Linked DNA regions of Homo sapiens. The protein of the gene in region 4 interacts with the protein of the main gene of each other region in a pairwise test. Each region holds a gene or a part of one and is shown on either strand. Other genes may lie near its edges. The genes, in order: TSNAX, XAF1, ARID5A and RFC5.

What was found.
Region 1: the proteins of RFC5 (region 4) and TSNAX interact in binary tests that used the Homo sapiens proteins (3 or more experiments, as listed by UniProt).
Region 2: the proteins of RFC5 (region 4) and XAF1 interact in binary tests that used the Homo sapiens proteins (3 or more experiments, as listed by UniProt).
Region 3: the proteins of RFC5 (region 4) and ARID5A interact in binary tests that used the Homo sapiens proteins (3 or more experiments, as listed by UniProt).

The regions. Positions count from the first base shown.
Region 1 is NC_000001.11:231,531,651-231,538,668, reverse strand, and holds part of TSNAX (translin-associated protein X), read right to left. Parts: intron 1,457-7,018; coding exon 1,342-1,456; intron 1-1,341.
Region 2 is NC_000017.11:6,751,096-6,759,053, reverse strand, and holds the start of XAF1 (XIAP-associated factor 1), read right to left. Parts: upstream 3,009-7,958; 5' UTR 2,976-3,008; coding exon 2,944-2,975; intron 966-2,943; coding exon 830-965; exon of another isoform or gene 712-829; coding exon of another isoform or gene 429-711; exon of another isoform or gene 286-428; coding exon of another isoform or gene 95-285; intron 1-94. UniProt on the Homo sapiens protein: Seems to function as a negative regulator of members of the IAP (inhibitor of apoptosis protein) family. Inhibits anti-caspase activity of BIRC4. Induces cleavage and inactivation of BIRC4 independent of caspase activation.
Region 3 is NC_000002.12:96,531,762-96,539,751, reverse strand, and holds the start of ARID5A (AT-rich interactive domain-containing protein 5A), read right to left. Parts: upstream 3,001-7,990; 5' UTR 2,926-3,000; coding exon 2,922-2,925; exon of another isoform or gene 1-2,921. UniProt on the Homo sapiens protein: DNA-binding protein that may regulate transcription and act as a repressor by binding to AT-rich stretches in the promoter region of target genes.
Region 4 is NC_000012.12:118,012,380-118,019,709, forward strand, and holds the start of RFC5 (replication factor C subunit 5), read left to right. Parts: upstream 1-4,323; 5' UTR 4,324-4,448; coding exon 4,449-4,513; intron 4,514-5,310; exon of another isoform or gene 5,311-5,672; coding exon of another isoform or gene 5,673-5,674; intron 5,675-6,692; coding exon 6,693-6,757; intron 6,758-7,252; coding exon 7,253-7,330. UniProt on the Homo sapiens protein: Subunit of the replication factor C (RFC) complex which acts during elongation of primed DNA templates by DNA polymerases delta and epsilon, and is necessary for ATP-dependent loading of proliferating cell nuclear antigen (PCNA) onto primed DNA.

The DNA.
Region 1 (7,018 bases), on a different chromosome or scaffold from region 4:
CTTCCCTACATTCTTTCTGTGACATATAGTATAAAACCAATCACAGCTACCCTTCTGGAGACATCTGGAATTTGTAACAACAATCCGTCTTCAGAAGCTGGACTAAAACACGTAAGCTGGGGAGTTGTAGGGTAGATACTATTCTACCTCTCGTGAAACAGGCAAAGGAATCAGGTCAAATGAATTATGAAGCAAACAAAGAAGCAAAGATGGAAGATGGAGATCCTCAGCTGCTCATAAGATAGTGCTGAATCTTGGGAAGTTCTAATTTTTCTGAAGTCTGCTATTTTCTCAGTTTACTAGTCAAAACTGTATGAATAATATGATTACAACTGTAATAGAAAATAGTGCATAAAATAAGAAATCTGCTAGTTGATAGTGGCTTTTTTTATAATTAATTTCCCCGTTCTGCTTAGACTAGTTTAAGTTAGTTTCTTTTACTTGCAATCACGAAGTCTATCAAATATACAAAGCCTGCGTAGAAAAATAAAATAGTAAAGTCCTAGAGAAAAAAATGTAAACAAAAGTCACAAAACTGAAACAGGAACTTTCGAAAAAGAATTAAGTAGTCAACAGTATCATATGCTACAAAAATGTAAAATAAGAAAACAGAGACTTAATAATATGAAGGTAACAAGGGCATTTCAATAATTGTGAGGCAGAAAGCCAGACTGCCATGAGTTCAAAAATGAACGAGAAAATAGGTTATGCAGATTTTAACATTTATCTAATATTAAAATTTTCACGCATATCATCCAAATAAAGTTTAATGTAACAGGCTCTAACAATCAAAATATATCATATATTTTCACAGACAATAGCTATATCTTAATGAATAATCTTAACACAAAATCCCTAGCTGCTCTGAATTTTTCTTTCTTAAGTCCACCCAACCCCTACAGACTTTTCCTTTTTTTTTTTTTTTTTTGAGACAGGGTCTGGCTTAGTCGCCCAGGCTAGAGTGCGGTGGTGGGATCTTGGCACACTGCAGCCTCTGCCTCCCAGGCTCAAGCAAGCCTCCCACCTCAGCCTCCCAAGTAGCCGGGATGATAGGCATGCACCACCAATCCCACCTAATTTTTGTATTTTTAGTAGAGACAGGGTTTCACCATGTTGCCCAGGCTGGTCTCGACCTCCTGAGCTCAAGTGATCTGCCCGCCTTGGCCTCCCAAAGTGCTGAGATTACAGGCATGCGCCACCACACCCAGCTGAGACCTATTTTTATTAAAATATTAACTCTTAAGTTGTACCTACTGCTGATGTCTTCTAATCCTCACAAAGTCACAGAATATTCTAATAGCTAGTATCAAACTGTAATAAATTCTAAAGATGCTTACTCACCTTGTAATCCTATGGAGGAGAAAAATTGTCCTTTTACTTTCAACAGTTATATCCCGACTAAGTTTCACAAGTCTCTCATATTTGTCATGCCTTGCATCAAGTTCCTGCTGAAATGCTAAAAACACATTATGATCATAAGCATGTATATTCTATACTCAAAGCCTACCAAACAATATTTTTAAGATGTACGTCACATATGCTGGGTGCGGTGGCTCACGCCTGTAATCTCAGCACTTTGGGAGGCCACGGTAGGTGGATCATGAGGTCAAGAGATCAAGACCATCCTGGCCTAGACGGTGAAACCCCGTCTCTACTAAAAATAAAACAATTAGCTGGGCATGGTGGCATGTGCCTGTAGTCCCAGCTACTCGGGAGGCTGAGGCAGAAGAATCGCTTGAACCCCGGAGGCAGAGGTTGCAGTGAGTCGAGATCAAGTCACTGCACTCCAGCCTGGTGACAGAGCGAGACTCCGTCTCAAAAAAAAGAAAAAAAAAAAAAGATGTCACAATGTAAATGCAGACAATGACTGCAGTCACCTGACTTCATTCAGAAGTAGAACACGATGGTAATGACACTAATTCTCAAAACACAAAAAGGTGATTATAAACAATCTCTAGCATCTACTGACTCTAGTGTTAATTGTCAAATATCCTAGGTATACATCACTAACAGCGCTAAAGTAGCTCAAGAGGTCCAGTTAATGTTCCCAGATTTCTAAACCTTTAAAACTAAATATCTAATAATTTCTGTAAATGCCAACAACGCACAGCAGCTCACAAATTCCTGAATCCTTGAAGATTTTCTAAAAATCTGTCAATTGTAGTAAGGTAGCACGTGTATATTAAAATGAACATGAAACAACTTCTTAAAAGTGAGTGCCACAGTATGTGTATTGTATCTTAATTTTTTAAAAAGCTACCAAATTATATCACATTTAAATACTAAGTAAAAATCTAGTTAGCCCGTTTATTTTAGAAAGTACATAATCTCAAATTTACTGTTTTACCATGTAGTAATATTGCATACATAAGCATAATATACTTCAGAAATATTATTTTCAGAAAGATTAGTAAAGAAGAAAAAAGGAAAAATGACTGAAAATAGACAATCACTACATGAGTTAGTTTTGTTATAACTAGAGAACTAGATCATAAAGTAGTTCTGCAATCAATAGAAAGCTGTGGCAGAGTTCATCTGAAAATGATCAGTAAGAAACATCAAAATTTAATTAGGCTGGAAAAAAGTCAGCTGAAAATTGAGTTAGTCAGGATGTTAGAAATCTAGGAAGAGAACTGAAAGTAGGAGAAAATGAAGAAGAGTTCCTGAGATCGATGAAAGGCTGAACGCAGGCTGTGGTGTCCAATTCTTACATACTATCTTCGAAGACTCAACACTTCCACATAGAATTAATCTTCAACCTGTCAAATTGTTACGGACACAAATCTCCCATAACATAATATTACATTAAGAAAAGATTTCCTCCCCACTTTCATACATCCTTTTCCTTACAGAACAAAGCATTTTCACAATTCTAACATGTCTTGCCTTCAGGAAAATTTTCATACATTTGTCTCCTTAAATGTCAGCACTTTGATTCCTTATAGTTACTGTTTTCTCCTTACCTGTATTCGATCAGCACTTAATGCTGAATGGAATACTTTTGTTTCTATCTATTACATATAACTGCCAATCTGCTTACCTTTTATGCTAACTTAAGTTTCATCTACTCTGCTTAATTTGTTTTAGTCTCGAATATTGAGACTCAAAGAATTTTACCTTGGTAAACTTTTTACGGAAAGCCTAACTTGAGACTGCCAAACAAAAACAGTGTTTTAAGTTTTTTTAAAGAACAAGCTTTCATTATACCACTATCAGATGTTTCAGCCTCAAAATTTTTTCCTTACTAAAATTCTTAACAGTTAACAAAATAATTACTTTGTATTATTGTTTAAAAGACTACATCTAAAGTTTTGTGAATATACTTAGAGCAAAAGGTATTAAATAAATTTAACTGAAGAAAGACTGTTTACCTTTTCCAGAACACAAAGCTATACTTACAGAACGTTGTATATACCTAACATTTAATAAAACAGTACAACAACTGGGAGTCTACATAAAGATTACATTACCTATGGGAAAAATAACCCGCAGAATCTAGAATCTTTTCATAGTAAATTCATGCCTCTAACACATTAAACTGCCTCATGTCCTGCCCTTAGCTCATGAGCCAGGCAGACTATGTCTTCTTGCTAGTCCTGATTCTCTAAGCTTGTACCTTTCTTGATGCCTCTATTTTTGCTACTGCCTCTCATCATCTCACATTTCACTTTCATCATTCAGATATCATTCTGCTCAAGGACTGCTTAAGAATCACGTGCCTCCCTCCTCCCTTACTCTCCATTCCTTACCACGCTTCACTGATTTACATTTATCCTTCGCTAGCTAAAATTATATTATTTATTTGTAAATGCACTTGTTTCACCACTGTATCAGAGCATAGATCCATGTCTAGCAGCAGGTGTTCACAAAACATTTCCTGACTGAACTGCTTGTTGAAATCATAAGCAGTATAACATACTGGATAAGAGCATCTGTTGTAGTTTGAGATAAACGTACTAAGGGTATGCAATCTCCTGGGAACTAAGAAATTGTTGAAAAGGAACTGCAAATCCATGTGCCCAATAAGCACTGCCCCTAACATGGAATAATGTCTTATTATTTTGCTGCTATTACTTTTTCAAATGTATGCTAATGCAGTTGGAATAAAGTATAAATTACTCATAATAGTAATATAAGTTAATTTTATAAAGCACTGTTGAATCTGTCTCATCAGCTTCATTACTGTCATCCAAATCTAAGTTACCTTATTACTTTATTACCTCTAAGTTACCTTACAAATACCTTACTGTACCGGAACTACAAAATAGTCTCTTGTCTGGTCTGCGTCTGCCCACCTTGCCTTTCTGTAGCTGCCAGAGTGACATTTCTAAAATATACTTTAGTTTTTAAGACTCTCTAATGACTCTGCATTACGTTTAACAAACTCCAAACTCTTTATGAAGCCTTACATTACTTGGTCCCTTGCAATACCCCCAAAAAGAACAAATCAACAAACCATCATTTATGTAGTATTCCAGCCAGGGATGCATAACCTGAATCTAACCATGAGAAAATATTAATCAAATCTAAGTTGAGGAATATTCTATTAAATAAGACCTATATTCTTCAATCAATATCATTGTCAAGAAAGACAAAACTGGGAAACTGTTCCAGATCACAGAAAACTAAAAAGAGACATTACAATGTAATATGTGATCCTGTTCTAGATTACTGGACTAGAGAGAAAAAAAGCTGGAAGGAACCTTATTGAGACAATTGTCAAAATATGCACTGTAGATTAAAGTATTATGTCAGTGTTAAATCTCCTGAAATTAGTTAACAATACTAGAGTTATACAACAGAATAGTCTTCTTCCTAGGAAATATATTCTGAAGTATTAACAAGTAAAGGGGTATGATGCATGCAACTTGTTCTTAAATGGTTCAGAATATATGGTTAGACATATAAATTTACATATATAGAGAGAATAATAAAGCAAAAGTGGCAAAATGTTAAAAATTGGTCAATCTAAGTCAAGTCTATACAGAAATTCTCTGTACTATTTTTCCAACTGCATTAAGTCTTCTAGTTTTTTAAATAAATTTGAGATTACCTCAAAATAAATTTAAAAAGAGACAGTATTTCTTTACTCAGATGATTCAACAACAGTAGAATATTGATCTGATAACTCCTTTTAATGCAATTAACTCCAACTTTGATAGCAAAGTGGTTGCTCGGACATTAAAGATCCTGGGTTTGAGTTGAACAAACTATACTATCTCATGAAATTTTGTCTGGAAGCTAGTGCTTCTCATTAAAGACTTTCCGGGCCGGGCGCGATGGCTCACGCCTATAATCCCAGCTCTTTGGGAGGCTGAGGTGGGTGGATCACTTGAGGTCAAGAGTTCAAAACCAGCCTAGCCAATATATAGTGAAACCCCATGTCTACTAAAAATACAAAAATTAGCCGGGCATGGTGGCACAGGCCTGTCGTCCCAGCTACCTGGGAGGCTGAGGCAGGAGAATTGCTTGAACCTGGGAGGCGGAGGCAGGAGAATTGCTTGAACCTGGGAGGCGGAGGTTGCAGTGAGCTGAGACTGCACCACTGCACGCCAGTCTGGGTGACAGAGTGAGAGTCCATCTCAAAAAAAAAAAAAAAAGACTTCCCATGAAATCCCTTTTAAAATCTCCTCTGACAGACCTGTAAGCTTTTATGTCAAACTTTTCCAAAACACTTGGTAAATCTTATGAAAGGAAAAAAAAGGGAAATGATTTTAATTTTCTTAGAATACAAATGGCTAGAAAGCAAAAACAGTCTGTACCTAAAAGTACTGTCTCTATATGTAAGAAAGCAATAATTATTCAGTTTATGAAAATGAAGAGAATAAAATCATCTTATTTCTAAATTACATGGAAATCAAAAAGGCTCAACTAAAATATTTTCCTCTTTAAATATAGGTATGTATTAACTGGGTTTTACTACTTAGTCTCACAATGGGAATACTGTACAAGTTGTAAAAAATGAACTTAGTAAACAAGAGATTATCACAAAATGACACGTAACAAAGAGTTACATAAAGTTTTAAAAATTACTTTAACCACATATATTAATAATATAAACACCTCCAAAAAAAGAAACTTGGACCTTTTTTTTCAAGTTTATTAAAATTTTTTTCCCTGTTGTCTTCCTGCTTTTCCACCTTTACTGGGGTATAACTGACAATTAAAAATTATAAGGCCAGGCATGATTGATTATGCCTGTAACCCCAGCACTTTGGGAGGCCAAGGGGGACAGATCACTTGAGCCCAGGAGTTCGAGACCAGCAGGGGCAACACAGTGAGACCCTGCCTCTACAAAAAAATCTAAAAACTAGCCACGTGTGGTGGCACATGCCTGTAGTCCCAGCTACTTGGGAGGTTGAGGTGGGAGGATCACTTGAGCCCAAGAGGCTACGCTTGCAGTGAGCCAAGATCACGCCACTGCACACTTCAGCCTGGGCCAGGGTGAGGCGTTGTCTCCAAAAAAAAAAAAAAACCAAAACTGTGTGTGTGTGTGTGTGTGTGTGTGTGTGTGTGTGTGTGTGTGTGTGTGTGTGTTATTACCACTATTAAGCTAATTAACGTATCCATCACCTCAGTTAGTTTTTTTTTTTTCCTTTTTGAGTCAGGGTCTCTGTTGCCCAGCCTGGAGTGCAGTGGCCCAATCACAGCTCACTGCAGCCTCAAACTTCTGAGTTGAAGCAGTCCTCCTGCCCCAGCCCCTCCGGAGTAGCCAGGACTATAAGCATACTACAGGCGCATGCTGTCATGCCCAGCTAATTGTGGTAAAAACATTTAAGATCTACTTACTTAGCAAATTTCAAGTATAAACTTCCTGAATTTATCAAGCTCTGTACCTTGAAATACCCTTAAACCACTTAACTCTCTTAATAACGCCTTTATTTCCCAAGTCTTTTCACTCCACAGCCCCGCAAGCTGCCTGGCCTATAGGAAACACCCAATCATGTATATTGCACGAACTGAAAAAACAAGAACTTAAACTATTAACTAAATTAGTAGCTGACATGGATCTAAATAT
Region 2 (7,958 bases), on a different chromosome or scaffold from region 4:
CCTGCAGGGAGGACTGGAGCCATTCCCTGACTCCCAGACCCCTTCTTTCTTGCAGGGAGGATGGAACACTTGCCCCTCCCAGACCCCATCTCACCTGCAGGGAGGACTGGACCCTCGTCCCCCAACTCTCAGACCCCATCTCTCCTGCAGGGAGGACTGGACCCACTCTGTGACTCCCAGATCCCATCTCTCCTGCAGGGAAGATGGAACACTTGCCCCTCCCAGACCCCATCTCACCTGCAGGGAGGACTGAACACTCTCCTTGACTCCCAGACCCCATCTCACCTGCAGGGAGGACTAGACCCTCGTCCCCCAACTCTCAGACCCCATCTCTCCTGCAGGGAGGACTGGACCCACTCTGTGACTCCCAGACCCCATCTCTCCTGCAGGGAAGATGGAACACTTGCCCCTCCCAGACCCCATCTCACCTGCAGGGAGGACTGAACACTCGCCTTGACTCCCAGACCCCATCTCACCTGCAGAGAGGACTGAACACTCGCCTTGACTCTCAGACCCCATCTGTCCTGCAGAGAGGACTGAACACTCGCCTTGACTCCCAGACCCCATCTCACCTGCAGAGAGGACTGAACACTTGCCTTGACTCTCAGACCCCATCTCACCTGCAGAGAGGACTGAACACTCGCCTTGACTCTCAGACCCCATCTCTCCTGCAGAGAGGACTGAACACTTGCCTTGACTCCCAGACCCCATCTCACCTGCAGGGAGGACTAGACCCTCGTCCCCCAACTCTCAGACCCCATCTCACCTGCAGGGAGGACTGAACACTCACCTTGACTCTCAGACCCCATCCTCCCTGCCGCCTCCTCACCTGCTGGTGCTCAAGCTTGCAGTGCTCCTCCATGGTTTCCTTGGGGACAGGCTCCTCACACTCCGGACACAGGACCAGGAACCGCAGGCAGTAAGCCTCATGGAGGGTGAAGTTGGCAGAGACTACATGTCTTTTACTACAGGGTCAAGGTGTGGGGATAGAAAAATAGACTTATTTTCATATTATAAAACATGGAGCTGTATTTCATACCCAGGGCTAGATCTCCAGAGGCCTTAAGCACTGAACATGTGATGATGATGACACCACCTGCCCCACACTCCCTGTGTGGGTCCAAAAGTCAGAACAGTGAGGCAGCATCTAATAAGAATAAGGATGATCTACAGAGCTCTTACATTGCTGGGGCAGGGCATGGGAAGGAGCAGGAGGGAGGAATTACAAAGGGGCATGGGGAGCTTTTGGGGTGACAGGAAGCTTCATTATCTCAATTACGGGGATGGTGTTTCATGGATGTATATAACTTAGGCCAAAACTTATCAATTGCTACCCTTTAAAATGTGAGGTTTATTGTAGGTCAATTATACCTCTATAAGGCTGTTTTTAAAATGAAACATTTCATTTTAAATAATGTAAATAATTAAATTATTTCAATTTAAATAATTTGAGAGAAGTGCCAAATTCTCTTGAATCTTTTTTCTTGTTTTCTGGTGCCCCTGTTTGGTCCACAGTGTTAGGAACGCAGCCCTGCTAGGCTCACGCTTCCTGCCAGGGCCATGCCAACTTCCAAAATCTCCAAAGCGAGAGCTTCCCAAGTCTCCCCTGCCTTCAGGTTCACCTGCGCTAACTCACAGAGACTCCGAGGTTCTTCCTGGAGACCACAGTGAAGGAAGGGTTCTGAGCCTCCCACTTCCTGGGCAGGGCATTTTTCTCTAACCGTCCTTTTTGCCAAGAAGTGCCCCCTTTTGGCTGGGTGTGGTGGCTCATGCCTGTAATCCCAGCACTTTGGGAGGCCGAGGCGGGTGGATCACCTGAGGTCAGGAGTTAGAGATCAGCCTGGCCAACATGGTGAAACCTCATCTCTACTAAAACAATACAAAATTAGCCGGGCATGGCGGTGCACGCCTGTAATCCCAACTACTCGGGAGGCTGAGGCAGGAGAATCACTTGAACCCGAGAGATGAAGGTTGCAGTGAGCTGAAATCGCGCCATTGCACTCCAGGCACTCCAGCCTGGGCAAAAAGAAGCGAAACTCCATCTTAAAAAAAAAAAAAAAAGAAGAAGAAAGAAAGAAATGACTCCTTTCATTTCCATCAGCTCTTGCTTGTGGCAGCTTGGGAGAAGGGAAATGGGGTGGCTGTAGCCGTAAAGGCCCAGGGGACGAGAAGAGTTACATGCCCATGTTCCTGGCACAGGGGACGTGCTCCGAGAGGGACTGTCAAAGCCTCACTCCTCTTCTGCCCAGGCAGCGGGCACACAGGCAGCATCATCTTCCCTTCCTCTGCTCTCTCTCCTCTGCCTGACCTGGCCCCTTCTCCCCCTGCTCTTCCTGGGCTGGTTGAGAAACCAGAGTACTTGAAGGGTCTGGCTGGAGCAAAGCTCTCTGGGGAGGGTCCACTCAGGTCCCTGTCACAGGTAGGGAGCTTTGAGAATGGGGCTTTTTGATCGGTCAGATTCCGCGCCCCCCCTCCCGTTAGAGGTGTGGTCCCAGCCCCCTGCTCTGTCCCCCCTGCCCCGCCCCACGGCTCCCTTTCCAAGGAGGGTGAGAGTAGTCCTGGAGAATCTCCGTGGGACACTTTCTTTCACAGATGGGTGTGAAGGTCATAGTATCAGAACCCCAAATTAGGACCCAAGGTCTCACAAGTATGAGTAGCCCAGTTGGGACCACTGGCCGGGCTATTTGGCTTCAGAACTGTCCCAGAAAGCCTAACATTTGGGGGAAAGGGGCTGCAGTGAAGTGGAGGTAATGCTGCCCACCCCCACCCAGAGATTACCAAGTTTAAACCCTCCTACCCTTGGGGCCCACGGTCTCCAGCTGCTTGTCCTCCTAAGTGTTCTTATGCAGGAACCACTTTCTGCTCCCTTCAGAAACAGCCCTATGTCGTCTACGTCTCTCCCTCGCCAGCCCGGGTCTGCCGCTGGAGAAAGCACTTTCTTACCAGTTCCTGCACACCGAGAAGTCTCCTTCCATGTTCTGCTCTCTGCAGGCTTTCGGTTGAGTTTCGTTTCTTGCAGGCAAGGAAACAAAACTGAAAGTTTTCCGATGGCCCAGCCCACAGCTTCAGGGAGGGAGGAGATCTTCAGAATTCTCGGCTCAGGAGTTCCCCTTGATTCCTGAGGCTGGACCCTCCCAAGAAGCCCCTTTACAGCATGGCCAGCCCCTGCTGTCGCCCTTGGCCGTCATTCTTTGCTGCTGTCACAGCCGCATCTACCTCCCTGAGGCTGGCAGCCTGAGGCCAGGCCTCTCCTGGGCAGCACAGCAGCTTGTTCCCTCACCCTGGCTGGCTGGCTTCTCTCCGTCTGGGTCTCCATCCCTTTTCCAAACCATCCACCTCCCACCCTTCTCCCCCATCTCCGGCTCCCTTCTGGTCCTCCCCTGCAGGAAAGAGGGAACTTGCCATGTTGAGCTTGAATGCTGTTCCCTAAAAATGGCTCCTGGACTTCCAGGCGGTGAGGACCTTGCAAACAGCGTCCAGGGAGGCTCTGGGGATGCAGGGTGGTGTGAGCCCAGACCCAATCTGGTGTGTATCCTCCTGGGGGTCCTTAGAGTTTTTCCAGACCCTAGAAACAGCTGTGCTAACAGAAGAACTCTAAACAACATCTGGAGTGATGACAAGCAGGCCCAGAGAATTCCCGTGGCGTCTGCCAATGGGGTGGGTGCCGCCTCTCTGAGGAGGATAACAAGATTAAGGGAAATGTCCAGGCAGGGCTCCAGCCTCCAGGCAGGCTCTAAAATTCAGGCACTAAATGAGAAGCAGTGTGTGGTGGTACTGATGATCACAGTGATAGGAGGGAAGAATGAAAGACTGTTTCAACATTGTTCCTATGTTCCAGGCACCATTCTAAGCATTAGGTAGGCATTGTCTTCGTTTTAATCCCTCATGTAAGCATTATTAACTCCATTTTGCTATGGAAAACAGAGGCAGTGACAGAGTGAGACTCTGCCTCAAAAAAGAAAAATGAAATGAAAAAAGAGAAAATGGAGGCAGAGAGAGGCTAGGCCAATCGCTCAACATCAGAGCTGGGATTCACACCAGGTTGATATGACTCAGGTGTCTATGTACCTAACCAAGGCCCCATCCACCTCATTTGACAGCTAGTTGGGGTAGTGAGCACTTGGCTGAGAGTCAGAGACTGAGGTTTGCATCTTATCTTGTTCCCTTCCTCATCGGCTAGGCAAGCTCCTTAATCCTTCTGACCCTCACTACCCACTCCTGTCTGTCTCTGGGCAGTCTGTCAATATCAAGAATGAAAAACGAGTGGGCTTGGCTTGGTGGCTCATGCCTGTAATCCCAGCACTTTGGGAGGCCGAGGTGGGCGGATCACGAGGTCAGGAGTTCGAGACCAGCCCGACGAACATGGTGAAACCCCGTCTCTACTAAAAATACAAAAATTAGCTGGGTATGGTAGTGCTTGCCTATAATCCCAGCTACTCAGGAGGCTGAGGCAGGAGAATTGCTTGAACCCAGGAGGTGGAGGTTGCAGTGAGCCGAGATTGCACCACTGCACTCCAGCCTGGGCAACAGAACGAGACTCTGTCTCAAAAAAAAAAAAAAAAAAAAAGGGCTGTGCGCGGTGGCTCATGCCTGTAATCCCAGCCCTTTGAGAGGCCGAGGCGGGTTGATTATGAGGTCAGGAGATTGAGACCATCCTGGCCAACACAGTGAAACCCCGTCTCTGCTAAAAACTACAAAAAATTAGCCGGGCGAGGTGGCGGGTGCCTGTAGTCCCAGCTACTCGGGAGGCTAAGGCAGGAGAATGGCGTGAACCCAGGGTGGAGCCTGCAGTGAGCCGAGATCGCGCCACTGCACTCCAGCCTGGGCGACAGAGCGAGACTCTGTTACAAAAAAAAAAAAAAGAAAGAAAGACAGGAAGAAAGAAATGGAAAAGAAGGAAAAATGAAGAACTTTCTTTTCACATATTGTCTCCTGCTGAGATGGGATAGGGGTGGTGGCAGGGGTGTATAGATTGGACACCTTAGAGGAATGGAATGTGTGGCCAGGGGATAGGAGTGGAATTAGAAGTGACCATAAGTTGCTTCTCATCTACATCCTAATTTTCTTCCAAGATGTTTCCTCCTATAGACTGTCCCACCCACGCCAACCCTTCCCTTCCTCATCAAAATCCCAGCAGTTCTTCAGGACCAACTCCTATGCCAACACTGATCTAGAATCTACCTCCTTTGTCTCTGGCTTTGGTTAGTTGGCTGTGTGTCTATTGTCTCAACTCCTCCCCATCCAATCACAGGCATGGGCGATTTGAGAGCCAGCTCTTTCTGACCCACCACCCCTGCCTTCCTGGAGAGACCCGCGGGCTTTGTGCTTATTAGGCAGAGTGCAGTATTGAGCTTCGCAGTAGCAGGCAGTCAAATGCTGGCTGACCCGAATGGATGGGGTGTTTTGAGATAATTAAGCAGGGAGTTGGAAATCTCCCCCAACCCACACAACACCCCTGAGTCGGAGGGCTCTCAAAGTGGCAGCAATGGCCATTTTCTTTTCATTTCTCAAGATAACTTAGATTTCATAAAGAATATATGAATATACACTCTTTAAAAAAATGGAATGTTACAAATACAGCAATGTTTCTCTTTGACTGTCACGGCTGTTCCTGGGCCATCACTATTATTAATCAGAGAGTGTATGTAGGAACACTCTGGTTAGCACAAAAGCCTGTCCCCATTTCCACTACGACATCAATCGGTGCTGTGGGCTTGTATGATTTCATCATTCTGCCACCCGTCTTTGGCTGGTCGCCAACCCCAATCCCATTTAAAAAAAAAAAAACAAAAAACAGCTAGATGAGAAATGCTCTGTTGTGGGCTTAGAATTCCTTTCCAGGACACTGTGGCTACCCACTTGGCCGTTGTGGGGAGTTTCCGGCAGTCTCTTTGTGTCAGGCCTGTGGGTCAGGGGAGGGGGGTGAAGGTTGTCACAGGAAGCCAGTCTCTCAGACGTGAATTGGCCGGGCTGGCCATGTCACCTTTGCAGGAATCGGGGGGAAAGGGGAGCAGGAAGTCCTGGCTGGACTAGGACACAGGAATAATACACCCCTCCGTGCATTGTTTTGAAGATCAGAAGAGAAATTGTGTGAAAGCTGTACTTGTACAGCATGGAAGACAGGAAAGAATATTTAAAAAGGATTGTTTTAATAGTTTGGCTTTGAGAAGGGATCTTATTTAGGCTTTCTTCTTTTAAGGGATCACTATGCTAAGGAAGATGATGTAACGACAGAGATATTTCACTTCCCAGACAAAAATTATATGGTGCAATTGCACACACTTCTGTCGGTGGTGTCTTTAGAAGAATCCTGTGGTCAGAGTGGGCCTGAGTCCTGGGAGATGTGATCATATAGTCAGACTCCCCAAGCACAACGTGTTTGGATGGGAGTTCGTTTGTCAGACCACAGGAAATTGCATCAGATGACTAGTCTCTGGATGGCATTCAAGCCTGGGAATATCTGTGACTGTGTTTGGGGAAGACTCTAGGCCTGGCTGGGCAGCAAAGACGGGGAATGACCTGCTGGCTGCTGCTTAGTTGGCATATGAAGGGGAAGGAAGCTTGTCATTAAACTCATGGCAAGAAAGAGCAACTCCATGGCATTCTGTCTGTGTGGGGAGTGACCAGTACTTTTCTCTTCCTTTCTTTCTTTGAGAAGTCTCTTTTCACACATTCATAGTTTTGTTTTTGTTTTTTTCTTTTTCCTGGTTAAAACATCTCACCCACTTCCCCTGCCAACCCATTCCCGTCCAATCAGCAATCACAGTCCAAATGTCAAGGTCTCTTCCCTGATGTTTACAAGGGTGAGTGTTATGAGCCTTCTCCTCTTCCCAGATTACACATATTGGGTAAAGAGATGAAGTCTGTCTCTGTCACTCAGGCTGGAGTGCAGTGGTGATCATAGCTCACTGCAGCCTCGAACTCCCAGGTTCAAGCAATCCTCCTGCCTTCACACAGACTACAGGCACACACTACCATACCTAGCTAACTTTAAAAAAAATTGTAGAAATGGGGTCCCACTATGTTACCCAGGCTGGTCTTGAACTGGCCTCAAGTGGTCCTCCAACCTCGGTCTTCCAAGGTGCTGAGATTACAGAAATGTGCCGCTGCATCCAACCAATTTTTTAATAGCTTGATCATGGTATGGTCCCCTTGGTTGCTGCAAATCTCATGGAACTCAGGACAAATGACCATATATGTCAATTTTTTTGTTGTTTCTTTTTATGGTGGAGCGGGGGAGGTGAAAGAGAAAAAGTTTAGAGCTTCAGGGTCTTTTCACTCAGAATTTGGGGTGAACATACTCATATGGTTAAGTTGTGGTAATGAACAGCCACTCAGACTCTCATTTTAGGGAATAACTAGTGTTTTAATTTTTAAAAATGGAAACTTATGTTTCTTCCTACCCTGTCCTTGACATCACGTGGTCTTTCTTACAATGATTCACACTGGCTCCAAGATATTGTGTCCATCTCTTCTTCTTCTTCTTCTTCTTCTTCTTCTTTTTTTTTTTTTTTTTTTTTTTTTTTTTTTGAGAAGGAGTCTCGCTCTGTCGCCCGGGCTGGAGTGCAATGGTGCCATTTCGGCTCACTGCAACCTCCACCTCCCGGGTTCAAGCAATTCTCTGCCTCAGCCTCTTGAGTAGCTAGGATTACAGGCGTCCACCACCACATCAGGCTAATTTTTGTATTTTTAGTAGAAATGGGGTTTCACCATCTTGGCCAGGCTGGTCTTGAACTCCTGACCTCGTGATCCTTCTGCCTCAGCCCCCCAAAGTGCTAGGATTACAGGCATGAGCCACTGGGCCCGACCTGTCCATCTCTTCTTAATGTTCCATTTATAAGGTCATGCTGATACCTTAAAATTGGCCATAGTGAGAGTATTTAAACCGTGGAAATGGGCAAATGCTACAAATCGAGTATCTCCCCATCCCCAAGATCTGGCTGTTAAATACTTAGCAG
Region 3 (7,990 bases), on a different chromosome or scaffold from region 4:
GAGCTGGGCAGCAGCGGGGAGAGGGGGAGGGCCGGGAAGGGGCATGGCCCCCACACTCTATGAATCAACTTCCCTGGCCTGGGTCGGGGAGGGCCCAGAGGACCCACCATCTTTGAATAAGGGGTGTTATCTCCATAATCTTGAGGAAGGAGGAAAGACCTGTTGATACCTACTGAGATTCCATTTAAAAAACTGCTACCTGTTACCTGAGAGAGTAGGGGGCCAGCTCTGGCCAGGGCCCAACCAACCTGGCGAAGCAAAGGCAGGTATGCAAAGGCAGGAAGGTGAAGGCAGTCGGGCGGTGGTTGAGAGTCACTGAAGACAAACTTAAGATGTCTCACGGGGCTTAGCCAGGACTAGAAGGTAGCTATGGGGCCAGGCAGTGGGTGGATGCGGGGAAGTCAGTGGGCCCCTGCCCTGCCAGACATCAAGCTGGAAGCAGATGAAAGTGGGCCAAGAGGACAGATGGGGCAAGGGGTTCCAGCACTGCATGGCTGCACCTCTTACCAAGTTGGTCACTGGTTCTGTATCTCCCTTTCCCCATCTACAAGATGGGCGTGCTAGACTCAATGTGCCCAATGTTCTCAGCAGAAAAAAGTGAGAAGAGAAAGGAGGCTTCCCCCACAAACCACAGCCAGGCTCAGTGAGAAGATCAGAGGCCTGCCTGTCCTGCTCCCTCCCCAAGGCACCTCGCTGCCCAGCAGGTGCTCCGGAAACATCAGCCTCCTGGGTGCAGGATGAGCGCAATGGACTTACAGACCCCTGTTGCCCAGAGAGGGGCAGTGACTAGTACAAGGCCACACAGCTCTCAAGTTTAAGGGTCTGCTGGAGGCACACACCCCTTTCCTTCTCTCCCTCCCCATCTTTCTGCTGCCCGCCCCACTCACCCTGGGTGTGATGGGAAGGAAGTGACACTTCCTTTCATGAAAAGTCACCGACTGGGAACACTGCGTCAATTACCACAATAATGGTAACAGCAGCCTCAATAACAACCAGCAGACGCCGCCCCGCCCCCTCGGCTGAGGTTGTTGGCTTAAGTTTCTCTAAGCTTGAGCTGGAGCAAAACAAAGACAGCCTTTGAAGCGGCGAAACGGCCGGTCCACTCGGCAGCCCGGGAGCGGCGGCCAGGCCGAGTCTACGCGAGCTTGCTCCAGCAGTTTGGGGAGGGGGGCCTGCCAAGTGTTGAGCTGGAGCCAGCAGTGAGAAGAAACGCGATGGGCCTGGGACCCCCACTCCCTAACAGGGCACAGGTGCAGCTCAAGCCACAGCCCAACCTCAGTACCTCAGCTTGGGGGAGGGCGAGAGAGACAGGGTCTGGGGGCAGCTGAGGCCACAAGAGCCACCAGAGGGTACAGAAAGGGAAGGAGGTGCGGGGGACACTGAATGTGAGGCTACCAACTTCCAAGCCCCATTCTCCCTGTCCCTCTTACCGGGCTCTGGGATGTCCTAAAAGCCCCAGTTCCAGGATGGGACTGTCCCTCCCCACGGAGTCTGGGCCACATTTGGTGGTGACGGACAGTGAGAGCTCCTCAGATGGTTTCGTGTGTTCCCATTTCACCTACGGGGCAGAGGCTCAGAGGTGCCAGTTGACGTCTCTCAACTGTAGAAGCAGATTATCGGAGGCCCTTTCTACCTCTGCCACACCAAGTTCTAGGCCCCAGGCGGGTCCCTAAGGCCTGGATTGGGCTCTGAGCTCTGCTGCGGGGTGAAGCCCTCGAGCCCCGACCTCCCACCCCTCCTGTGCTCTAGCGTTGCCTGTAGGCGCAGTGACGCCACCGTGCGTGTGGGCTCCCACCAGAGGAGCCCGGGTGGGGCAAGAGGCACCTGTTGTCCTCCCCTGGGGCCCGCGGAGCACTCCTTACTGGCCCAAGACTCTGCAAACAAAGGGACACTGGACCCGCAGCGCCTTGGGACCCCCTGGGCCCTCGGGGGTCCTGCACCGCGCAAGCCCCACCACGCCGGCGCTGGGCGGAGGGTGACGCGACCCCAGCCCGGGCGACCCCTAGACACCGCGGAGGGACGGAGCGCGGGCCCGGGTTGGCCCGCAGCTCCCGCCGAGCGCGAAGCCGGGCATCGCCTGCAAGCTCGTAGCCCACGCTCTTGCCCTCTTCCCCTGACGCTCCCCAGCCGCCACCCCGTCCCTTCTGCAGACCGAGGGAAGACAAGGGGACACACAAGGGACAGGAGAGGAGAGCAACCAGGGAAGCGACCCCTCTCCTGTGGGGCTGCGGCGGGTGGGCGGAGAGACAGGAGAGGAAAAGAGAAAAGGGAAGAGAAGGAAGGGGCAGGGGGCGAGAAGCCGGGCTCCCCGGACCATCGGCGCAGCCCGCGGCCGAAAGAGGAACAGTGGATCCTACAAAGCGCATTGAGCAAGTTCTTCACACCCGCGCAGCCCCTTTCAGGAAACGGCGGCCGCAGAGGAAAGGGCCGCGCGCTCTGGACCCGGAGTCTGTGCCCGGCGGCGCCGCGGTTCTGAAACCTGCGGGATGTCACGGGGCGGAGGGGCGGCTGCCGACAGCTGTCACAACAAATTAGCTGAGCCCAGCTCGAGGTGGAAACCGCAGCAGGAAGTGGGACGACAGAGCCGTACCGGGCTCGGCATATTTCAGGCAAGAGACGGCGAAAAGAGTTTCGAGATAAACGCCCGGGAAGCCCCTGGCCGCCAAAACTTTTTGTCTTTCCTTTTCTCGAAGCTCGCGCGGACGCCCAGCCTCACCCCTTCCGCGCCGGCCGGGGAGCGCTGAAGCCGCGGGCCGGGCTCGCTCCCCTTGGCCCGCGCCCCGAAACCCACCCCGGGCCCCTCTCCGCCCCACACAGCGCACCGACTGCCACGAGGGCTGGAGGGGACCCGGCGCCGGCACCTTGAACCTCCCTGCAGGGCCGCCGAGCCCCTGTCCGGGCCGCGCCGCAGAGCCGCTTACCCATGGCCCGGAGAGGTCCCGCGGCGCCCGCCCCGAGACCCTCAGCGCGCGGCTGTCCGGACCCCGCGCTCTCTGAGATACTGGCTCGCGGCGCGGCCCGCCGGCCACCTCCCCGCAGTCCCGCCCCGTCCCGCCCCTGCTCGCCCCACTCCGGGCTCCCATTGGTAAGCCCGGCTTCGTCGCGCGGAGAAGGCGGGGGGCGGGGACCGCCCTTGAGTCCGGGGACCTCTGGGAATTGTAGTGCGCGCCCCTCGCCTCTAGGCTTTCAGACTGGAGCCCCTGGAATAGGCTCCTCACCTAGAGGAGCGGAGGCAGGACCCTCAGTAATCATTGCTGCCTTGTGCCTCAGTTTCCCTGGAGGCAAAACTAGAGCCTTGGAAAAAGCCTCCTTGCTTTCAGCAGAGCACTGAGGACTCTGTGGAGCGAGCAAAGTGCTTCTGACTTTGATTTGAAAGTGGCCCTGTGCATTTCCCAGTCCCCACCTAGCCCAACAAAGAAGGCCAGGTGAGGCCGGGAGCGGCGGCTCACGCCTGGAATCCCTGCTTTGGGAGGCGGAGGCGGGAGGATCACTTGAGCCCAGAAGGTCGAGGCTGCAGTGTGTTTTGATCACACCACTGCACTCTATCCTGGATCCTGGGCAATAGACGGAGACCCTGCCTCAAAAAAAAAAAAAAAAAAAAAAAAAAAAAAAAAAAGGAGAGGTGGTTAGTGTGAGCTAGACAAGGACCAAACTAGTAAATCCTTGGCCTAGGCTCTGTGGCCAGGCCTGCCAGTAATAGTCAATGTCCACACACATAATGCAGACAGAGTGTGGCAGCTACAAGCTGAGTAGTCCAAAGAAGGGGCATGAGTTCAGGCTGTGGGAGGTGGGAATGAGGCCTAGGGCGAATGGAGGCAGGAGGAGGTGCCCAGCCAGCCATAGCAGCAACCTGGACCTGTGCAGGCCAAAGAGGAAGAAATGGAGGCTCAGGGTTTCAGTCTCAGCAGGTGGCTAGCTAGGATGGGAACCCTGTTCCTAGCACATAGAAGCTACACAAAAATCTTTGTTGATGAATTTTAATACTCATAATAGCTCTATGCACTTGACACCATCATTGTCCTCATTTTATAGCGTAAAACTGAGGTCTGAGAGATTAGCTCAAGTAGCACAGCTGGTAGGTGTTGGAGCCAGAGCTAGACCCAGGAAGAGGAGCCCTCATACCCAGGCATCCCCCCACCCGCTTTGCACCCATTACTAACCACTCATCATACTGGTGCCCCTCCTCACACTAAACGAAGGGACCAGGGCTGCAGTTTGGTGAACCTGAAACCCTGGCCCTTACCCTTTGGCCCTGGGATGGAAGATGTCTGCAGGCTCAGTCTAGAGCAGACGACCCTGTGGGCTCTGCAGGATAAATCCCCTGTCTACCTCATAATGGGTTGGCTTGTAAGAGCCAGCACCTGTAGAATTGGTAATAGACACCCAGAACAATCATAATGGTAATTATAACAATGCATCCCACTTTGGCAAGTTTACAAGCCACTTTCCCCTCCAGGAAAGCTAAGGCTGTGGTGGAAGACACTATGATGGGATGCCATCAGGAAGCACCTTTGTACATTCTGGAAGCATTGATTGGCAGGCACTATGCCCAAGGTTGGGGATGGAGCTCTGGATGCAGCCCCCGGGGTCACAATCTAGGCCAACCCCTCACTTGTGGGTTGGATACCCCTAATGACAAGGAACTCACTATCTTATAAGACAGCAGCTCATCCCACCAAGAGTTAGGGTTATTCTGCCATCCGGGCAGCTGGGCACATTCTGACAGACAAGGGCTGTTGTGCAAAGCCTCAGCAAGTCAACACCTGCCTGTGCCAGCCTGGGAACGATAGGATCTAAATTTAATTGCTTCCTGAGGCAACTGTTTGCAATAGAAAGTAATTTACAATGGCCAGTAAATCCTGCAGAAAACAGACATCTCCATTCATCTGGCTAAAAGCATAAACACTTCCATTGCTCAAGCCTCCATCTCACACACCTCCACTCCGGCCCAAAGCCACCCTCCTCTGCACCCTCCAACCACAGGATCCCAGGCCAGGACGCCTCTGTGCCTACAGAGGGGGTCAGCTAGCCCCTCAGTGTCCTGGTGTCTCTCTGTGTGTCTTAATAATAAGAAAAACAAACCATCACTTATAAATAAACACATTCGTCCTGTAAAAACATGCAAGTAAATCAGCCCTCTCTGATGCTACACCAAATCCAGTTCCCTCCCTGCCCCAGAGGTAAAGACCCATCAGATTGGGTGAAGTCTTCCAGAACTTTCCCTATGTGTATTTTCAAAACTATATATGTATCCATGGTATAGAAAAATAGATAGCTTTGTTTTATGTGTGTGTTTAAAGAAACGATACAATTCTCATTGCTCCATTCTGAAACTTGCTTTTTCGATCACCGCTAGATCTTACAGACTTTCCTTGTTGGAACACAGATCTGCTTCTTTGGGAACTGCTGGGCTGTGTGCCCAGCACAGTGTATTTAATCTCCTCTTGATAGCGTTTAATCTTTTTGCAATTACATGAATCCTGCTGAGAACATTATAGACCCCCTTAGAACAGTTCCAGGGCTAAGGAGCTCACAAAGTGTTCCCAGAGACTGAGCTAAAAGCTGCTTTCTAACTCCCACCTCCATGTCCTAGCACCTCTTGTTAGCCCATTTCTAGGAAGAAAATCTGGCCCTGGGGGTGGTTCTCATCCTGGAGCTCTCAGAGATATAGGGACCATTCAAGATCATCTGTCCACCTGGTCTCATTTTAGAAAGGAGGTCACCAGGCCAGAGAGGTTAAGCAAACTGTCCAAAGTCACACAGCAAAATCAGTGCTTTTGTTTCTTCTGGGACCTGCAAACCCATCCAGTGCCCTCAGGAAACAGAATGCACAGCCAGTCTTCTATCCTGGGAAGCTCAGTTCCCAGGCTCAGCAGTTGCCAAAGGCCCCTGGGGGTTTGTTTTCAAAGGAGAAATGAAGTGGGGAAGTATTTTTAACGCGGCCCCGCCCTGCTTGCCTAACTCCTCGTTCCCCGTGCTAGCTGTCCAGGAAAGGCCAGCTTCACAGCAGCATTTGCAACTCATGGAAAACAACAAATGCCCGAAATAGATGATACCCAAGCTCAGGAATGGAAAAAATTGGCTCATGGTTCAAATGCCTCTTTTAGAAAAAGACAAGAATAGCTTTTGGCCTTTGGGGAACTGCTGGGGGTGAAGGAGTGGGGAGGTGGTTGTGAGTCCCAGATCACCAAGGGCCAACTTCCTGCCTGAAAGAGCTTTGGCCACTGTACCCCAGGGCGCGTGTAAACCAGCTTCCCAAGCTTTGTCCACACTGGAAGCTGCATCTGCACCTGGCTCTAGGTTCCCTCCAACCTCCAGCCAATCTGGAAAGATTTCCTGTGTTGGGCCAGGGCTGGGCTGGTTTCCCCTCTCCACCCCACATCTCCCCAGTGTGTCCCAGCAGGGTAGAAACCCATGGTTCTGAACTTCCTGAGCCTGAAGGGTGGAAGCTGAATTCCCCTGGGGGAGGGGAACGGAGGGCAAGGAGAGAAAATTGGGGGTTTCATTCCCACTCAGACACAGCCCAGCTGTGTGGCCTTGGACACTTAACCTGTCAGGGCCTCAGGCCCCTCCCGTGGAAAGCAGGATAATGCTCCACTTATTCAGTCATCCACTCATCCAACATGTGTTGTGTGGTCCTACTATGTGCCAGCACTGAGCTAGACCTGGGATGTAGCCACAACCAGAAAGAAGTCCGTATCCTTGTGGAGCAGAAGATGTGGCCCTTGCCAACCTCACAGGCTACTAAGAATCAGTCCCCGCTCCAGCTACTCAGCCAAGGCCTTGTGCTGAAAGGGGTGAAAATGCCTTGGACCAGGGCGGACCCTAACACACACTGCACCATCTTGCATGGAGTATTTCTTTCAATGTCACTCTAGCCCTCTGAAGTGGGCGCTGTATCTATATCTATCCCCTTATTACAATTGAGAACCAGAGAGTAAGTGCTGGACAAGCCCACAGACTCGTCCACAGACAGGAAGGAGTAAGTTTGGGCTGGGTGAGGGCCAGGCCCTGGTAAGTCCCAGGGTCAGGGTAACTAAAGCTCTGTGTGAGTCTTGACTGGTGCTTAGCACAAAATGCACTGGACAAGAAATCTCTTAAAACCATTGGGTCTCTGTGACACTTTTACTTAAAATAAGGTCTCAACTGACACTTCCACTCTCTGTTGTATGTCAGGTGACCCTTCCATTTGACAGAAGAGTAAACCAAGGCATGTAGAGATTAAATGACCTCTGCCCAGCCACACCCTGCCCATCTCCCACCAAGATGAGGCGGGAGAGGGGCGAGGAGTTGGGCTGGGGATGGGGGCATGACTGGGGCCAGGACAGAACTCCATCTCCCAGGATACCATGCAAAGGGGGCGTGTAGGGGCTGGGCCTCCGCGTAGGCAGGGCTGTAATTTCTTGGTATTTAAAAAAAAAAAAAAAGGAGCAAAAGGAAAGAGAGAAAGAATCGAAGCCTCAAGCGTCACGTCTAGGAATAGCGCTGGAGTCGGGCCAAGTCATTAGAGACGATGAGTAATCTGGTTAAGTCATTTCTCTAAACACCATTCCTTGTAAGAGAATTAAAATATCAGCTTACATCAGAGGGGGAGAGGCAGGCTCCAGAGGCCCAGGCAGGAGCACGGCCAGGAAGGGGGCACGGCTGTTGCGCTCTGCCACTCAGCCCTGCCCCCGGCGGGGGCTGCATGCGGGGCCCTGCCAGCTGAGCCCTGGGCTTGCGGTGGGGGCTGGCATCCAGCTAGCAGGGGTAGGGGGAGCGGCCCGCCACACCTCCGTTTACCTCATTGTTCAGGGTGCTGGGAGAAGTTCGGGACTGCCTGCTCTTGGGAGAATCGTTGTCCCTCCTGGGGGCAGCTGTTTTGTTTTTTTTTTCTTCAGTGTCTCCCCTCCCTCCTAAGATGTTGAGTTGATATCTCGACAGCTTCAGGTCTACCGTTGGAGTAAAGGGCTGGGGATCGGCCTGGGGACACAGGGAATGGAAAGAGGGG
Region 4 (7,330 bases):
GAGAATCGCTTGAACCTGGGAGGCAGAAGTTGCAGTGAGCCAAGATTGCCCAACTGCACTCCAGCCTGGGCAACAAGAGTGAAACTCCATCTCAAAAAAAAAAAAAAAAAAAAAAAGCAGAAAATAACAGACAATGAGATCATTAAATTCAATTTGATAAAATTTTGTTTTTAGACAGCATCCATTGTGTTTCTTAGAAAGTGAAGTCCTGCGGCTGGGTGCAGTGGTTCATGCTTGTAATCCCAGTATGAGCCACTTTGGGAGGCAAAGGTGGGTGGATTATTTGAGCCCAGGTGTTCAAGACCAGCCTGGGAAACATGGCAAAACCCTGTCTCTACAAAAAATACAAAAACTAGCCGGGCGTTGTGGCATGCGCCCACATTCCCAGCTACTAGGGAGGCTGAGGCGAGAGGACCACTTGTGCCCTAGAGGTGGAGGTTGCAGTGAGCTGCGATAGTGTCACTGTACTCCAGCCTGGGTGACAGAGTGAGATCCCTCTCTCAAATAAATAAATAAATAGGAAATCAAATTCCTGGAGTGCTTGAGGACTGAGAAGCAGGGTAGTATAGTGATATGACTCTCAAACCTGAGCGATTCAGAATCCCCTCAAGGGCTTGTCACAACACAGATGGCTGGGCCCCAGCTGTGAAGTTTAAGATGTCTTGGGTTTGAGGTGGTGGGAAGAATAATTAGAATGTCTAACAAGTTCCCAGGGGCTGCTGTTGATGCTGTTGTCCCAGCATGGGCTATATAGAATCAGACTATATTAGCAAGATCCAGTTCTGCCCCTTACAAGTGAGAACCTAAGCAAGGTACCTAACATATCTGCAAAATGGGGCCAATGATAGTAACTTGGGCTTCTTGTAACAATTGAGTGATCATAATAAACGTAAAGTGCTTAGAACAGTGTCTCGGCCATAGAAACTGCCTAATGGATATGAGCCATTTTCATTCATTCATTCATCAAACAGTTATGAGTTGAGTACTTCCTTTGAGCCAGGCAATGTTTCAGGCCCCAGAAGTACAGTGGTGAGTAAGTCAAGGTTCTCCTCCAATGAGCTTACATTCCATTGGGAAGGCATACAATAGATGACTTTGCAACATATAATCTAATGTCAACACAGGAGAATTCTACATTCCAAGTTAACGGAACAGCAGATGCACACAGAGTTTTATGATAAGTTGTTCTGTTCTTTTTTGAATCTTCCAGCTCAAGGAGGTGGCAGCATCATGCTTCTAATGCAAAGGTCCTTAGAAGGATGGTTCTTACCATGAATGGCTCGTACCATGATGGTAAGGATGGCCTTAACCATCAATAAGGGCAGATTATGGCATAGTTCCACTAGCCAATCCTTTGGGTTTTGTTTCAGAGGACAAATTTGAAACCAGAACAGTTTGGGTGGAGAGTGTTAGGAGGGAAGGGAAGAGTAGGGTGGCGATGTATTGGATGCTGCACATTTGTTCTTTCATTTAATCCTTACAACAATCTTTGAGTAAATATTATTGGATAAGGAGAGAAGAAACCTGCCCAAGGCTAAGTGGAAAAAGTGGCATCCCACCCCAAGGGTACCTAATGCTTGGCAAGGAGCAAAACCACTGAAGGGAGAACAAATCATGAACAAAGAGAGAAGGATCCAGAGTCCACGTGGCCATCTTCAAAAGTTTGCCTTTGCCTTGCAACTTAAATTGCCTTTCTCATGAGAAGCAAAAACATTCAAATGCACCATTTTCCTGGCATGTAGGAATGCTTTGGTCTACATGTTCACTGCACTGATTCTAATAATTCTTTAGCCTTTATAATTCTTTTCATTCTCCTGGAACACTTGAGGATTTGGGGACTTGCTTAGGTTTCTCTCCATAGGCTGTGTAAAGATTTTTAGAGTTGAACTGATTCGAGGCAGGTCTTCTGACACCCAAAGCAATGCTTTCTTGATGACTTCTCCTTTAGTTTCAAAAGCCACTGTATTAGTCCATTTTCATACTGCTATAAAGAAATACCCAAGACTGGGTAATTTATAAAGGAAAGAGATTTAATTGACTCACAGTTCTACATGGCTGGGAAGGCCTCAGGAAACTTACAATCATGGTGGAAGGCGAAGGGGAAACAGGCACCTTCTTCACAAGGCGGCAGGAGAGAGAAGAAAGAGTGAAGTAGGAAGAGCTCTTTATCAAACCATCAGATCTTGTAAGAACTCACTGACTATCACAAGAACTGCATGGGGGAAACCGCTCCCATGATCCACTCACCTCTCTTCCTGGACACCTGGGGATTACAATTCAAGATGAGATTTGAGTGGAGAAACAGAGCCAAACCATATCAGCCACCCTTTAGGATTTTACCCCAGTGTGAAGCCTGCGTCTCAACAATTAGATCGTTGGTGAGGAGGGTATAGCACCATTTATTTCTTTAGTAATCTTTCATAATTTTGCTTAGTTATTGTATCAGTTGTTTTCTAAAATTGTATCAGCTGTTTTCCTTTATTTTTATACCCATCACTTGTATTTTATGCCTTTTAAAAAACAGAAGTGGGCTGGGTGTAGTGGCTCATGCCAATAATCCCAGCACTTTAAGAGGCCCAAGGCAGGCAGATCACTTGAGCCGGGGAGTTAGAGAGTGTAGTGAGCCGTGATTGTGCCACTGCACTCCAGCCTGGGTGACATAGTGAGACCTTCTCTCAAAAACGAAACAGAACAAAACCCCAGGAGTGTTCAAAGACCCCAGAATTTGGCAATACATGACAAATATTTAATGTGTTTCTATAACTTTAATTCAGAGGCATCTATATCTCACCTCAGCATGTGTCAGCAAATTAATTGTAAACATGTGCTGATTTTTAGCCTTAGTATTTAAGAAAAACTTGTTAATCATTTATGATTCCCTTCCTGGAGATAAAAATGAATAAAACCAGTTTTATCTTAAAAGAAAGAAAGAAAAGTTTAAAAATGGCATGCTAATGATCTAAGCCCCCAGTGTTAAAGTTTCCTGGGAGCAAGCAGAGTAGGGGCACTGTCACATCACAAGCCCTAGCTGATCCCCTTCTTCGGGGTCCCCAGGCAGGGGCTAGGGTGAAGCCATAACTGCCATCACATACTTGCCACTGTCCCTCTGCTGTGTTCCTGAAGCAGGTGACAGTGATGTAATCCTATGCAAAGAGTATTGCTACCTCCTAATCAGAACACTGCTGACCCCAGGCCAGCCTCAAAAATCCTCCAGGATTTTTGTCTTCCTCATCATGTTAAAAGAAAAAAAAAAAGAAAAGACTTCAATATGGATGCTTTGCATGCTCATTGCTGGAAAATACAGACCAGGCCAGGCGCAGTGGCTCACGCCTGTAATCCCAGCACTTTGGGAGGCTGAGGCGGGTGGATCACTTGAGGTCAGGAATTCGAGACCAGCCTATCCAACATGGCAAAATCCCATCTCTACTAAAAATACAAAAATTAGCCAGGCGTGGTGGCGCGCGCCTGTAATCCCAGCTTCTCCGGAGGTTGAGGCAGAGAATCGCTTGAACCCGGGAGGCAGAGGTTGCAGTGAGCCGAGATAGCGCCACTGCACTCCAGCCTGGGTGACAGAGCAAGACACCAAAAAAAAGAAAAGAAAATACAGACCAACAAAAAAGAAGAAAATAAAAGTGATCTAGAATTCTCCTCGCCTCAGGAAAAAAACCTAAAATGTTGATATCGATTCTCCTCAGTATCTCAGATCACAAGGACCTTGTCCTCTGTGTTCATGAACTAGACCTTCCAGCGACACAGATTAACCCAACTGGAAGTTTCTGTTTGTTTTTCTCTGGAGTCGTTTTCTGGAGGTTGGTTCCCTAAACTTTTTGGGCGAGGGGCACGGATTCCGGAGATAGGTAGGTTGCAGTTGTGTTTGTTTGGGGTTGTTTTCATTTCCAAATATTCACCTCCCAGCTTGGGGGCCGAGAGGTATCTCAAGCCTTCTTTCGCAAAGGCATCTATATTCAAGACCCAGCCGTTTTACTCGGTGTTGTTTTTTTTCTTAGATTTTTTTTTTTTTTTTTGAGCCCCGGCAGCTTTTGTTCCTTTGAATTTAAGTGTTTGAAGCTTGGCGATGGCAGGAATTGGCTTTGGCCTTGAGATCTTAATATGTAATGATGACTGGGGCTGCAGGGGGCCCTGCCTCTCCCGCTGCCCTGCTCTGGAAGCGCCTGGGTATCTGAGAGTTCAGAGCAGGCTGGAGGGGCGGAGCTTGGAGGGACGCTGGCGGCCCGCGCCTCCGGTAACCTAGCAACCGACGCCCTAGCAACGCGAGGGGGCGGGACCGAGGGAGGAAGTCGGAAACTGGTGGCCGCGTCTCGCGAGAGTTGCTTTTGCGCGCGAACTGTAAGTGCCAGGGTCTCAGGGTCAGGTCGCGGCTGGTCACTGTGCAGGCGCTTGGGTGACGCGACGATCTCAGCGGATCTGGTCACCTTCGTCTCCCCGCCATGGAGACCTCAGCACTCAAGCAGCAGGAGCAGCCCGCGGCGACCAAGATCAGGAACCTGCCCTGGTAGGAGGAGGCCGAGCGGCGGCGGTGGGCAGAGGGGGCCAGGCGGCCGCGCGGGGAGGAGGTGGCTGGGGTGGCAGGTGACCGGACCCCAACCCGACCTCTTCCCGTCGTCTCCAGGCCTGCAGCCGGGACCGACCTGCAGAGGTTTCCCCCGACACCCCCCAGCTACCCAGACTCGTCCGTTCTGTTTAGGGCTTTTGCCAGTTCTCACCCTTTCACCCCCAGCTCCATTTGCCGAAGAAGAAGGCGGCTTTCGCACCTGGTGACAGCACAGGGGTTCGATCCCGCGTCTCCTGACGCCTGCAATGGCCTCCATGCCAAAATGCCCTCTTCCCACTCTTCAAAACCTGCGATGCGACTATTGGTCACATTTTAAACTAGTAATAACGCTCCCTGGTCAACTTTTATTGAATGGCATATTATTAGATTAGCAGACGCCCTGTTAGATGTTCGATCCTTACAAAGACCGTAGGAGGTAGGCACCGCTTCAAATTTTACACAGGAGGAAACTGCATTTTAGAAAGATGTAATGACTTCCCTATGGTCCAAGGGAGAAAATTGGCTTGGAGGTGAATCTAGGAAGTCTGAATTCAGATCTTGTACTCTTAACCATCCTACTTAAACAGCTATGTTCTCGCAATGCTTCCAAGACTTTGAAGCAATTTGGCTTGGCTTCGAAAAGCTGCAAGTTGTCATTGTCTAGTAACTAGTTCAATTTGTCTTTATTGTGGTTAAAAAAAACCCAGAAGATTGACAGTTGTAACTATTTTATGTATTTACGTATTTTTTTTTTTTAGAGACAGGGTCTCGCTCTGTCGCCCATGCTGGAGCGCAGTGGTGTGATCACAGCTCAGTGTAACCTCAAACATTGGGGTTCAAGCCATTCTCCTGCCTCAGCCTCCGAAGAACTGGGACTTTTAGAGGCGAGCTACCAAGCCCATCCTGTAACCATTTTAAAATGTACAATTCAGTGGCATTAAGTACATTCAGAATGCAGTGTACTGTTGTGGAGTCTTCCCGCTATCTAGTTCCAAAATTTCATCACCCCAAATGGAAATCCTTTACCCATTGACAGTTACTCCCCATTCTCCCCTTCCTCTAGCCCCTGGCAACCACTAATCTGCTTTCTATCTATGGATTTGCCTATTCTGGACATTTCATGTAAGTGGAATCCTACACTATGTGGCCTTTTGTGTCTGGTTTCTTTCACTCAGGATCATGTTTTCAAGGTTCATGCATGTTGCTGCTTGTATCAGTAGTTAATTTCTTGTTATGGCTGAATCATATTCCATTGTATGGACAGAAGAGATTTTACCTATCCATTCTTCTGTTGAAGTCTATTTGGGTAGGAGTTCAGTTTCAAATGCACTTTGCAATAGTAGGTGCCCATCAGGTTGAGATTATAGGCAAACAGCTGGAAAGATGAAGTTAGAACAGAGTTTTCAACCTCAGCACTATTGACATTTTGGGCCAGATACTCTGGGTGGGTTTAGGGGAGCTGTCCTGTGCACTGTAGCATGTTTAACAGCATTCCTGGAGACTACACACTGAGTGCCATAGGACCCTCTGCCCACCTGTGACAACTAAGTATGTTTCTAGATATCACTAGATGTTCCTAGGAAGACAAAATCACCTGTGGTTGGGAACCACTGGTCTGTTCAAACTTAAAGTGCTTTCTTATTCTTCCTTTTTAAATTAGGATATGAAAGGATTCTGTTTTTTTTTTTAAGACAAGGTCTCACTCTGTCGCCCAGGCTGGAGTGCTGGAGTGCAGTGGTGCAATCTCGGTTCACTGCAACCTCCGCCTCCCGGGTTCCAGCAATTCTCCCACCCCAGCCTTCGGGGTAGCTGGGGCTACAGGGGTATGCCACCATGCCCAGCTAATTTTTGTATTTTTTGGTATTTTTTATTGAATGGCATATTATCGGGTTAGCAGACACCCTGTTAGTTGTTCTATCCTTACAAAGACCCTAGGAGGTACCCATAGAGACAGGGTTTTGCCATGTTGGCCGGGCTGGTTGGTCTTGAACTCCTGACCCCAAATGATCCACCCACCTTGGCCTCCCAAAGTGCTGGGATTACAGGCATGAGCCACTGTGCCTGACCTGCAAGGATTCTTTTGCACATAAAATATTCTTGCATTTATATATGTCATAATACATACTAAATTGTATTTCAGGGTTGAAAAATACCGGCCACAGACCCTGAATGATCTCATTTCTCATCAGGACATTCTGAGTACCAGTAAGTATTCATGTGTCAGTTGCTCTTGTCCTGCTTGAGCGACTTGTATAAATTGCTTGGTGATGTTGTCTCTCCTAAGTAATAACTTCAAAGAATCTGATTGCGCTTTGTAGAATGTGGCTTTAAGATCATTCATTCATTTTCTTCAGGTTGCTACAGTCCAGTGGGTAAGTCACAAACATGAGCATAAAATTGCAACACAGTGGAGTAAAAATAGCATTACGGAGAATCATTTAAGTTCACAGATGTTGCCAGCACCCAGAAAGGTGCCTGTAACACAGTAGGCACTCAATAAATACTTGTTGACTGGCTGCGCTATTGAGTGAATTCCAGTTGTTCCACGAAAGTAGATATGAGGCCCCTACATCAAGTTGTATCTGCCTCTGATTTGGACATTGAATTGGGTTGAAGAGCTTTCAGCCCAACTCAGGAGCCCAGGGTGAATGAGGCAGCTCCCAAAGACTGATGGTGCCCTTCTTCCTTCCTGATCCTCAGTTCAGAAGTTTATCAATGAAGACCGACTGCCACACTTGCTTCTCTACGGTCCCCCAGGGACAGGCAAGACATCTACCA